Linked DNA regions of Homo sapiens: region 2 is linked to region 1. A link means that fine-mapping ties the variant in region 1 to the expression of a gene that starts in the linked region. Tissue or cell type: hippocampus. Region 1 holds a variant in brackets; the other region holds the start of a gene. All regions are shown on one strand. Distances are from middle to middle.

Evidence for each region. PIP is the estimated chance that this variant, and not a neighbour inherited with it, causes the effect.
Region 2: LINC02716 starts here. The variant in region 1 is fine-mapped to the expression of LINC02716 in hippocampus (GTEx, PIP 0.94).

Annotation. Positions count from the first base shown.
Region 1 is chr11:45,972,590-45,977,589 of GRCh38, reverse strand. All of the region lies in intron 7 of PHF21A (PHD finger protein 21A), which reads left to right. Among named protein-coding and RNA genes, the nearest start is that of LARGE2, 52 kb to the right of the region's middle. The variant T/A (reference allele first, on the strand shown) is at 2,660.
Region 2 is chr11:45,767,202-45,775,253 of GRCh38, reverse strand. It overlaps LINC02716 (long intergenic non-protein coding RNA 2716), which reads right to left and starts at 3,822. Exons shown (of 2, transcript NR_027134.1): 1 at 3,540-3,822; 2 at 2,896-3,261. RefSeq lists an enhancer at 3,629-4,130.

The sequences.
Region 1 (5,000 bases):
GTTGTTCTCTTTCCAAAGTACAGGTTGATCAGAAAATGTTTATCTGAAAGGAGTGTGGTAGAATTCATTGTTTCCTGTTACATAGGAGTTTTCTGTCTTAACCCATGGAAACATCCTGTTCAAGTAACATTTTATGTTATAAAAATCAAAGGAGGCTAGGCACAGTGGCACACGCCTGTAATCCCAACACTTTGGGAGGCCGAGGTGGGTGGATCACTTTAGGTCAGGAGTTTGAGACCAGCCTGGCCAACATGGCAAAACTCCATCTCTACTAAAAATACAAAAATTAGCCATGCGTGGTAACATATACCTGTAATCCCAGCTCCTCAGGAGGCTTAGGCATGAGAATCACTTGAACCCGGGCAACAGAGGTTCCAGTGAGCCGAGATCGTACTGCACTCCATGCTGGGCGACAGAGCAAGACTCCATCTCAAAAAAAAAAAAAAAAAAAAATCAAAGGAAGCATTTCCAAAATATAATAGCTTTTCCTTTCCCTGGTAGTCTGTGTTGCTTTGGGATGGTGAATGGTAAGAGGCCCAGGGCTGCCTCCAAAACAGTGTTGTATAGCACCTCTCCATCCAGTAGCCCACCTGACATATTTAATTGATTTTGCCAACCTTTTTTAAATATTGTTTTATTTAATGCAAATGATGCAAATGTTTAATGTTAAAAACCAAAAGGATCCTCTGAGTTTTTGGTTTTTGAGTTTACAGGTAAACTACAAATCTGGTTTTTGGTGTTTGTTTGTTTGTTTTTTAGACAGGATCTGGCTCTTTGACCCAGGCTGGAGTGCAGTGGCACAATCTCAGCTCACTGAAACCCCTGCCCCAAGCCATCCTCCCACCTCAGCCTCCCGGGTAGCTGGGACTACAGGCACAGGCCACCATGCCCAGCTAATTTTTGTATTTTTTGTAGAAACAGGGTTTCACCATGTTTGCCAGGCTGGTCTCAAACTCCGGAGCTCAAGTGATCCACCCATCTCGGTCTCCCACAGTGTTGGGATTACAGACATGAGCCACTGCGCTTGGCACTACTAACCTATTTATTGGTACTACCAATCTATGTGGTAGATTCTGGTATACAAAGAGCAGTGGTCCCTGCCAAAAGTCTGGTATATCATTATTAATAATTTTTATTCATTCTGTAAATATTTGTGGAGTTCCTACTGTGTGCAAGCACTGTTCTAGGTAATGTGGAGACTAAATTCACAAATCAGAGAGTTTCTATTTTCAAGAATTAAAAAAATTTAAGATGTAGAGAAATTTTGAGGACAGAGTAATTTTGACTAGAGGGATCAGAAAGTACTTGTCAAGGAGGGTTGCATCTGAGCAGGGCCCTGTCAGATGAATGGGATTTTAGTGATAGAGCAAAGGGGAAAGAGCTTCACAAGTATAGAGAGTAGTATGAACAAAAGGATGGCGTCAAAATAGTAAATGTATGCCCTGGGAATCGTAAGTAGGCTGGTGTGGTTGGAGTGTGTGATCCACGAAACGATGGAGAGGAGATAAGGCCAAGCCCTCCAAAGCATGCCAGAGCTTCTGGGTTTTTTAACAGTCATAGGGAAGTCTAAGGCAAGGACAAATGGGAGGTTATATATGGCATATATTAAATACATATATTTAATGTATGAGGGCAAGGACGAATGGGAGGTTATATATGGCATATATTAAATACACAACTTCAGAAAGAATTAAATATTAAGTAGCAATCGGGGGGCCAGGGGGAGATGCTAAGAGGAGAAAGTTTTTTATTCTAAGTCGGGTGATTGGCATATACCAAGGCGTAGAGAAAGCAATGAGGAATTCTTTTTGGGAGAGGGAATGGGAACAGTTTGCTTTACTTAGTTAACGTCAACTCATGCTTATAGGTGTATTTTAAAAGTTTTCCAATCTACAGAAAAAGTGAAAGAATAGAACAGTTAAATACAGGTATACTCTCCAACCTATATTCACAGCCCTCTAATTTTTAATGGCATAATGCAAATGTAAAGAAGAAAGCAGTTAATAAAACCAAATGGAAAACAAACCTTTGGAGACAAAAAAGGGAAAAGTTTCTATTTGTGGTTGTTTGAGTATACATCATGACTGCATTCAAAATTAAACCAGCAAAATAATATAAAACAGATGTGGAAGTTAGATCCCATAGTAATAATCCCTTAAATTCTGATTTGTATATTGGAGTTCATCTGTTTTATTTTATTTTGTTTTGTTTTATTTTATTTTATTTTATTTTATTTTATTTTATTTTATTTTATTTTATTTTATTTTGTTTTCTTTGAGACAGGGTCTCACTGTGTCACCTAGGCTGGAGTGCAATGGTGCAATTACGGTTCACCTCAGCCTTGACCTCCCAGGCTTAGGTGATCCTTCCACCTCAGCCTCTCAAGTAGTTGGGACTACAGGTGTGTGTCACCATGCCCAACTAATTTTTGTATTTTTTGTAGAGGTGGAGTTTCACTATGTTGCCAAGGCTGGTCTCAAACTCCTAGGCTTAAGTGATCCGCCCACCTTAGCCTCCCAAAGTGCTGGGATTATAGGCATGACCCACTGTGTCCAGCCTGAGTCCATCTGTTTTAAATCAATACTTCATATTTGGCAGGCAGACAACAATGACTTAGCAAATAAATAAATAAATAAAAAGGATTTTGCTATTGGCAGTA[T/A]TTGCCATGCCATGTATTTCTGCATTAACTTCTAGCTCATGCAATTTGGGTTTTGTCAAAATAAAGGACCCCATCATGAAACTGTGGAGAAACAGCTACCTTCTCTTAAAGGTGATCATACTTAGACACTGTTAACTAGCTAAAAACAAATCACAGCTTTCATATAAATAAATCTCTTGGTTGGGTGTGGTGGCTCATGCCTGTAATCCCAACACTTTGGGAGGCCGATGTGGGAGGATTACGTGAGAGCGAGTTCTAGACCAGCCTGGGCAACATAGCGAGATCACGTCTCTACTAAAAATAAAAAAAATTAGCCAGGTGTGGTAGCACCTGCCTTTAGTCCAAGGTACTCAGGAGAATGAGATGGGAGGATTACTTGAGCCCAGGAGGTCAAGGCTGCAGTGAGCTGTGATTACGCCACTGCACTCTAGCCTGGGTGACAGAGCAAGACCCTGTCTCAAAAATAAATAAACAGCAATAATAATAATAATAATAATAATAATAATAATAATTTGTCGTTTGACACCTTTCTTCTCTATGTCTCTTCTTCCTCCTTCCAGAACAGTTCAGACATTTTAATTAGACTTGGATTTCAAAGTTCTAAATTCCTTTTGTCATCTAAACCCAGGAGTTTGGTTTGTGTTCCCTAATACTTGGGAAAGAAGAAGCACCAGAGTAGGGGTAAAGATCTAAGCACTACCTGGGTCTTGGTGTCAATAAATAGTAAATATATTCTTCAAAAAGTTTTCACTGAAGCATACAGTACTAGGTCTTGTGCCTGTATACTAGACAAACAGGTATGTAGATGCTAGAAATCATGTAGTGAAATCAGCCATAACCATAGTTGTAAAATAAAAGAAAACTGCTAACCTAAGATGTGAACAAACTTGTTAGGTTTCAGTGTTTTTAAAGTGTTGGGTTAATGGTAAGTATATAATTCAGGTGAGTTTGAGGCTTTAGTCAGTATTTTGTAGAATCATCAGTTTAGAGTTATTCAAAATATTGATGATTTACTTGAAACAAAAGTACATTGACTTCTCTTAAAGCAGTAACAACATGCGTTTCTTTAAAATCCATGTCAGTGAGTTCTGACTAGAGCTTTACTCCCACAATCCACGATAGCACTGGATTGAACGCCATCTGGTGTGACTGGATCACCACTTCAGAAGTTCTTTAAATCGACATGTTTTAAATGGAAAACAAGGGCTAATACACTGTGGTAAAAACACTTACTACAAATTGCTGATAATGCAGTCAGTCCTTGCTGTTACACTACTATTAATATACCATTTCTAATAATAAATAGCATTTGGCTTTTATTTGGTTTTCATCACTGATCGAAGATAGGTGATCCACTGCACCCCAAAATAAATATCAGTGTTCCGCGTTTACTCTCATTTCACATTTAAGGAGGCAATGGCAAAGAGAATAAGCCACTTAGCGAAGAGGAAACAAAGATTTGGATGATGATCTTAAAAGATTAGATAATATGTGTATATGCGCATAAGGCAGAAAAATAGAGATAAGTAACTCCCTAGAAGCAAACAACTTAATACCCCTAAGTAGAAAAGCATAGACACTGAAATAGAAATTCATAAGGGAAGTTGTCCAGATGTGTTTCTGAGAGAATGGAGGTACTTTTCACTGGTATTGCACAGTGATAGAACTTTCTGTGATGTTGGAAATACCGTCTATCTCCACTGTCCAGTTTGGTCACCACTAACCACATGCGACTTTTGACATTTGAAATGTGGCTAGTGCAACTGAGGAGCTGATGTTTTAATTTTGTTTTTGTTTTAATTAATTACATTTAATTAATTTAGTTTTTATTTTTATTTATTTATTTTTTTTTGAGACGAAGTCTCACTCTTGTCGCCCAGGCTGGAGTGCAATGGTGTGATCTCGGCTCACTGCAGCCTCTGCCTCACGGGTTCAAGTGATTCCCCTGCCTCAGCCTCCCGAGTAGCTGGGATTACAGGCGCCTGCCACCACACCTGGCTAATTTTTTTTTTTGTTTTTGAGACGGAGACTCGCTCTCTCACCAGGCTGAGTGCAGTGGCACAATTTCTGCTCACTGCAACCTCCGCCTCCCGGGTTCAAGCAATTCTCTTGCCTCAGCCTCCCGAGTAGCTGGGATTACAGGTGCCTGCCACCAGGCCTGGCTGATTTTTGTATTTTTAGTAGAGATGGGGTTTCACCATGTTGGCCAGGCTGGTCTCGAACTCCTGACCTCAGGCAATCCACCCGCATCGGCCTCCCAAAGTGCTGGGATTACAGGCACGAGCCACCGCACCTGGTCTACTTTTTGTATTCTTAGTAGAGACGGGCTTTCGCCATGTTG
Region 2 (8,052 bases), 200 kb after region 1:
TCAGGCTGGTCTCGAACTCCTGGCCTCAAGTGATCCACCTGCCTTGGCCTCCCAAAGTGTTGGGATTATAGGCCTGAGCCACTTGCCCAGTGAGAATCCTTTTCTGACTGCATGGTTTGGCCCTGAGTGGACACTTGGAATTCAGGCTACAGGCCGGGAAAACATTACCATCCTTGCACCTGCTGGGTGGGCGCCCATTCTGTCCGACCAGGAAACAGGTCCCAGCACCCAGGTGCTAGGCATACAGCGAGGATAGCCTGGGTGTCTCCTGCTCTCAGGACCACCTTGTCTGGTGGGAGACATGCATATGTAGAAACATGGGAACATGGCAGAAGAGGCAGGAATGGAGCTGGGGGCTTTGGACCTAGGGCAGGCATGGCTGAGCTAGGCCATTTCATTCTCTCCTCCTGAAGAATGGCCCCCTTCCTTCTGCTATTGTTCTGTGGAGTCCTTCTCTGGTGCTTGGGAGCCCAGCCAGCAGTAGCCTCAGTGACCCCAGGGACAGGCCCCCACAACAGCAGAGGAGAGAGAGAGGGACCGGGGTGTTGGCGGCGAGGCTGGTGTGGAGATAGGGAGATGAATGTCTTAGCTGGAGGAGCTGGAGAAGTCCAGGCTGCCCATTTTTCAGAGGGGAAAGCTGAGGCCCTCATAGAGCAAGGGATTGTCCAGGGAAAGGAACGTGAGTATCGAGGAAGAAAAACCTGGGGGGCAGGGGCCCAGAAGAGAAGGCAGATCCCTCTCCACCCCACCCCAGGCAGGAAGCCCAGGCTCCAACCACCGCCTTTGGGCCAGGCACCTCTGCTGTCCTCTGAAGGGGTGGGGAGGATGAGTGTGGCTTCTGGCCCACTGGACATGCTTGCAAGGCACATTTGCAGATTTGCTGCTGCAAGGGGAGGGGTGGGCTGGTGGGGAGGTGCCGGCCTGATGGGGCACCTGGAGGGTGGAGAGACCCCTAGGCTCCTGTTTACTCCCCCTCAAGTCTCAGAGGCAGCCCAGAGGCAGAAGGAGACTTGATGGACACTTGCGCAAAGTCAGGGCTGGACCGGGCAATTCCACATGCAGTTCTCCTGGCTGGTGAATTCTTGAATTAGTGGGAGGGCAGGTTCACTCTCCAAAGTTGGACCATAAATTCTCCGAGGGGCAGGATCGCCTCACCCGGACACTGGCCCTTATACATCCCAGGGTACCAGTAAATGTACGCCTCATCCAGTCGCTTTTCTAACTGCAACAAGAGCGAAGGAATATTTATTGGGCACTTACTCTGTTCTAGACACTATCACAGCAGGGACTGCTTTTCATTCTGGCACCAATTCTGGGAAGTAGATGGTATTATTATCCCCATTTGACAGAGGTGGAAACTGAGGCCCAGAAAGGTGAAGTGCCTTGCATAGAGACTTGCTCAAGGTCACATGCAAATGGAATCAGGACTGGAATCCAAGTGGGTTCAGAGCCTGCCCTGAATGCCCCACTTTTCCTCCTTCCTAGGGCCCGTGGCACTCTTTCTGGGGCCAAGCTCAGGCCAAGCTGAAGGAGCCATTCTGGAAGCAATTCTGGGCAGACGAAGGCCAAGAAGCCAATTCACAGCGGTTGTGCTGACGAGTTTCTTGGCAATGTGGAAAGTCTGACGATCTTACAAATGTGTGAAACTGAGACTCAATTTTCCCTCATCCTACCTCCCCTTTCTACCCACCCTCCAACATGGATCTAAATATGGATGCTATATTGGGGGAGTAGCCCCCCTCTCTAGACTGCAAGAGAAGATGACGTTGGGGAGGAGGTGGGGCCAGCCAAATTGGGCAAGAGCGGCCTCAGATGATGCTGCCTCCAAAAAGGTCCCTGTGTAAGTATGAGGTGGGTGGCTGAGATTTCTGAAATCCGTATCTGAGATGACTAGGTGGAGTCATACATTTCCACCCTTCTGGGGTTAAGGACACAGCCTTAACCATTTAGGGTGACCATTTAGGGTGAAGTCACTGTTTATGGGAGTCTAAACTGTGACTTTGGCAAGGTGCAATATAAAAATGCTAATACATGTTTATGCACTAAGCTGGAAATAATGCCAAGCCCCTCAGTTAAAAAAAAACCTGTCAAGAATTGCAGTTTCCTTGAGTCGGAGGAACTAAGTGAGCTGTTAAATGAGGACTGTAAACCTGCCACATGGCGACGTTGCTTTGGTTATTAAATAGAAATACCTGCTTTCTATATGCATGCACTGTTGTTTACATGCCTCTGAATTTCTAATTTCTGCAGGAGATTCTGGTGACTGGTGTGCCATTTTCTCAATGTTCACAGTTATTATAACTTTAAATATTTTACCCATATCCTGTAACAATGTCATCCAAGTGTTCTTTAAGTGGTGGTGCTGAAAAACGCACCTGAAAATCGATAACATTGGAAAGGAAGTGAGATGTGATAAAACGTTATGAAGAAGGCCAAACCACCGGCAGGAAATGCTGCACTGTTAATTTAGCAGAGAGTGCGTTATGAAATATTAGCGATAATGCCAGGGAAATAAAAAGCAGCATTAAGGCAAAAATATGCCACAATTGGAGTAATGTATGCAACCTATCCTTTCTACTTTGCATTCATTTCTCTGGCAAAATTAGTCAGAAATTATGCACGCTTTGAATTATGCAAGTTTTTCAGGACCACATGCTTTGCATAAAACTCTACTGCCCTGAGGTTCTCAGTGGGTGGAAGAATGAGTGACCATATTCTAGGGTTATCTTAGGCCAGGCCGTTGTACCCTCCTGTCCTAGGTGGGGATGAAGTGACCTCATGTGTAAAATGGGACCGTTGGACTGGCTTGTCTTTCTTTCCTTATTAGACTATGTCGAGACAGGCACCATTATATTTCTGCCCCAAAGGTGTCTTTTTCTGGACGGATCCCACAGCTGATACCAAACTTGTCTTTATTAACTGTGAGGCTGGCCATTCAAACACCAGGTGCCAGAGAGGGTCCCTCACTCATCGGAATCCGGGTGGGATGAATCCTCGGAGGCAAGGTCCCTCCACCTTCACCCTAGAGTCACACAGAGACTTGCCCTGGCGGCTGGTGACAGGTGGGCGGGAGAAGAAAAGGCCCCTGGGGAGCAGGAGAAAGCCAGGTGCCATGGGGACCCAGCGCCGCTGGAGGGCAGCACCAGCACACAGCTGAGGCCGCCTCTCCCGGAGCCCGGAGGGAGCTGGGTTCCGGTCGCCAGCGGTGCCCGGGTGAGCAGTTCACCCTCACGTCCCTGCTCTGACGAAGTTTCCATTCTTCTGGAGAAGACAAAATAAACGTGAACAAATGAACAAGTGTGCATTGTCAGGCAGCAAGTGTTGGTACAAACAAGATAGTGGTGGGGGTGGGGACACCGTTAAATAGGGGCCAGGGAGGCCTAACCCGGGAGGGGATAGCTGAGATGCCACTTGAGTGGAGAAAACAGTCCGAGATCTGAAGGTGTTCATGGAGAGGGGAAGGGGCCCCTAGAGGAGTCGGGAAAGCCTGGGTCAGGGAAGACGAGAAAACTGAGGAACAGAGAAGCCAGGTAACTTACCCAGGGTCATAGAGCCGGTGAGCTGGGGACAGCGCCTGTCAACGCCCCAGAGCCTTCCACGGCACTGGTTTCTCCGACCTTCCTCTCTAAACAGGACCGTGACAGTGACAGTTTCTGCCCCACTCCCCATTTCTGACCGCAGTCCCCATAAGGAAACAGGGCAGGGATCACTGGCTGTGAGCCCAGCAAGTCCCCTCCCGTGGCTTTCTCAGTTATTAAATGGAAGGGTGGGTCCCCCCATAACTCCGAAGCTCCCCTCTCTAAGCGTCCGCGGGCCGGGAACGCCTGAATTCTGGCTCCCGAGCACCTTCTTGTGGACAGTTTTGGAATCACACGCTCAGCGAGAAAGGGTCGTGGGAAAATGGTCTGTGCTAATTTCGGAGAGGCCAGTGGATTGGAAGGTTATCACTGAGGGTGGGTGCACGTGTGTGTGTGTGTGCGCGCACGTGCATGCGTGCATGCATCTGTGTGCCTGTGTGTGTTGGTCTGTGTGTGAATGTACCTCTGTGCGTATCTGTGTGTATGGTTGTGTGTGAGCACATACTGCCCGAGCCTGTGTGTGTGTGAGTGTGTGTGTGCACTAATGTTTGTTTATATGGGCACAGGCACACACATGTCCATGTCCATGTGTGTGTACCTGCATCTGTATTTTTTCGTCTGGTGTATGGGCTTGTTTTTGTGTGCCTGCATGCATGTGCCCATGTGCGTGTGTGTTTTGGGAACTGGGACACAGAGGATGATATGAGAAGTCCCCAGTCTTTCTCACAAAGGCCTAACCACTCTCCCTGAAGCCAGCTTTCTCCCCTACTTGCTTCTGTCTGCACCATCACCTGAGTTCTCCCACCTGAACTTTTCACCGACATTTTTGATGATTTTTCTGTTTTGTGTCCGTTGAGGCTCATTTGAATGTTACAGATCATAGCTCAAGAAATGATTCTCAGGCCGGGCATGGTGGCTCATGCCTGTAATCCCAGCACTTTGGGAGGCTGAGGCAGGTGGATCGTCTGAGGTCAAGAGTTCAAGACCAGCCTGGCTAACATGGTGAAACCCCGTTTCTACTAATAATAACAAATTAGCCAGGTGTGGTGGCGTGTGCCTGTAATCCCAGCTACTCGGGGGGCTGAGGCAGGAGAATCACTGGAACCGGTGAGGCAGAGGTTGCAGTGAGCTGAGATCCCTGGGTGACACAGCGAGACTCCGTCTAAAAAAAAAGAAAGAAAGAAGTGATTCTCCTCTAGTCTACTCACCCAAATCATGAGTTTCACTTCTCAGGTGGGCTGATCACCCACTGTCCTGTTGAGACCTGGGGACTTGTACAAAGTCGTACCCTGGAGGGTTGAGCAGAAAACCAGGCACATAGTAACTAAGACAATGGCGCGTTAGCAAAGCACTCCACACATCCCGTTCACATGTGTGTCTTACTTGACTCACAAACTGATCTTTCATCCTTTTTTTTTTCCTTTTTTGTGGTGAACAGGGTCTTGCTATATTGCCCAGGCAGGTCTCAAACTACCGGCTGATCTTTCAAGCCTAGGCAAGGTGAGGCTAATTATTCCCATTTTACAGATGAAGACACTGAGGCTCAGAGAGGGAAATAATGAAAATAGTACTGCAGGAACCATCTAACCAATATGCAAACTCTCTCATCCAGTTTTCATAACATCATCAATTCCCTTCTTTAAAAGACAAGGAGATGGAGGCTTTAAAAATGTAAGGCGAGTGCTTAATGCCATATAGCCAATCAGTAGTTGAGGCAGGATTTGAATCTCGCTCCAGAGATTAAAGCCCAAGTCCTAAACACAATGGCAGGCGTGAGGGCCCTGGGCACACACTGACTCAAGCTCTTTCAGCCACACACTGTCCCTTTGCCATGCCTCTGGGGTCCTAAGAACATCCTCCTCTGAGCCCACAGGGAGGTCATTCCCCATCCTGGGTGCCCCTGCTCCTCTCCCAGATGCGGGGCAGGTGAATCTTGTAACCTGTGTCACTCTCAGAGGCTGAGATGGGGACTGAGCATTAATTATGCAATAACCTCGCTGTGGTGTGCCTAATTGTCTGATAACCATAATTGAATCTTATGGATTACACCAACATTATTGCAGGGAGCAGCTTAAGGCAGTTAACAGAAGCTGCACTCACTTTGTGATATCTTCCTCCTGTCTCCTTGCTGGCTGGGCTGTGAGTCCTTTCCTGGGGGCTGAGGGAGGCCTCGAGGTGCAGGGGGCAGGCAGGAGGTGAGTGACAGCACAAATGTCGCATCACCTTATCCCCCCGAGGGCACCATCTTCCTGGCTGAGAAAAGTCTGTGTGGCAGGTGGAATTATCATTTTGTAAATGAGAATGTGGCATCAGAAGGCTGAGAGACTCTCCCAATTTCAGTCTTGCTCATTGCTACTGGTCCTTGCTAGCATCATCTGGGACTGTTTAGACGTGCAGCATCTCAGCTGGGCTCGGTGGCTCACGCTTGTAATCCCAGCACTTTGGGAGGCCAAGGCGTGTGGATCATGAGATCAGGAGTTTGAGACCAGCCTGACCAACATGGTGAAACCCCGTCTCTAAAAATTAGCTGGGCATGGTGGTGCGTGCCTGTAATCCCAGCTACTCAGGAGGCTGAGGTAGGAGAATTGCTGAACCTGGGAGGCGGAGGTTGCACTGAGCCGAGATCACGCCACTGTACTCCAGCCTGCGTGACAGAGCAAGACTCCGTCTCAAAAAAAAAAAAAAAAAAAAAGAAATGCAGCATCTCAGGCCCCACCCTGGACCTACTGAATCAGAAGCTGCATTATTTTTTATTAAATGAATTTTTTTTCTTTAAAGAGATGAGATTTTGCTCTGTCTTCCAGGCTGGAGTGCAGTGGTGCGATTGTGGCTTGCTGCAGCCTCGAACTCCTGGGCTTGAGAGATCCTCCAGCCTCAGCCTCCCTAGTAGCTGGGACTACAGTCGGAGCCACCATGCCTGGCTCTCAGAATCTGCATTGTAATAGCATCTCAGGTGATTTATTTTCACGTTGCCGTTTGCTGAGTGCTGGTTTATGTAATTATTTATTCATTGCCTATGTGGGATCCATTGCCCTTTCTTGTGTCAGCAACACCTTGACTTCCATTTGGGAAATAACCCTTCTTCCCATATGGGAGACCCCTAGCTGTACCCTTACTCCTACCTCCCTCAGGCATTGACCCCAGGCCAGGCCAATGAGTCAGTTCCAAGATCTTTGAGGCACTGTTGAGGAAGACGTGTTTGATGGAGTTTTGCTGAGGCTTCTTCATTCCCTCCCTCCCTTGCATGGTTCACTGTGGGTGAATATTCTTCCCCACACCATCCATGGTGAGCTCAGCCACTGACTTGCTTTGGTCAATGGAATGTCGGTAGAAGTGATGATGTGTGGGTTCCAAGCTAGGCCTTAAAGAAGTATCTTGTGTTTCCGCTTGCCCCTCTAGAGCTCCTGCCCACCATGAGAAAGGAAGGTACACCCAGGCGACCATGGCACCTTCATCTGGAGTCCAGGATGGAGACTGTGGGGCAAATTGAACCTAACCAGAGACTGGAGTCCAGCCTAACTCTGATATTAACAACCCCCCAACTAACCTGCAGACCCATGAGTATGAAAGGAATGGTTGTTATAAGCAACTGAGATTTTCAGAGTGCTTGTTGCATGGCATTGGTGCAGCAGACACCTGACTGGTATAAAAGACATACTTTCTTTCCAGGGGGATTGCTAAGCTGAATTTGGATTTTAGGTGTTATCTTGTCACTAGGAAAGCAGGGCCTGCCTAAGGGCAAAACCAACCCAGAGGGAAATGGAGCTGAGATAGGATGAGAGCCCTGATCATGATGACAGCCTTTGTTTTCATGGATCCAGCCTCACAGGAGTTAGTCAACTCTTTCAGTCTCAAGGAGTAGAGAGCTGAAACTTCGCTGGCTTAAACCCAAGAAGGAATTAGCGGCTCACATAGCTCAGAAGTCTGGAGGTGATGTGGGTTTCAGGTGAGGCTTGAATCAGTAGCCCCTGGACCAGTGTCCTTGTCTCTCCACTCTGGGTCCCATTTTGCTGGTTTCATCTGGAGGCTGGCTCCCCTTTGTGATATCGTAAAATACATATTGAGTTGTTGTCCACATTTCCTGGCATGTTACTCCTAAAATCTATGGAATCTCCAAAGTGGTAAGTGTCTTTTTGTATGCTAATGAGTTGACAGTTGGCTGGCAGCCCCTAGGTAGCTTGAGGATGGGGGCTACTCCAGAAAGTTCAAGGCAGGATTAGAGGACTGGGGCTTTCAGCCCCACTCCCATTCTCTCTTAGAGGGGAGAGGGGCTGGAAGTTACGTTGATCACCAATGGCCGATGGCTTAATCAATCACGCCTGTGTAATGAAGCCTCCATAAAAACCCTGAAGGACAGGGTCTGGAGAGCTTCTGGACAGCTGGACACACGGGGCTCCTGGAGGATGGCGCTCTGCTCCCCCATACCTTGCCCTATGCATTGCCCATCTGTGTCCTCTGTGGTATCCTTTATAAT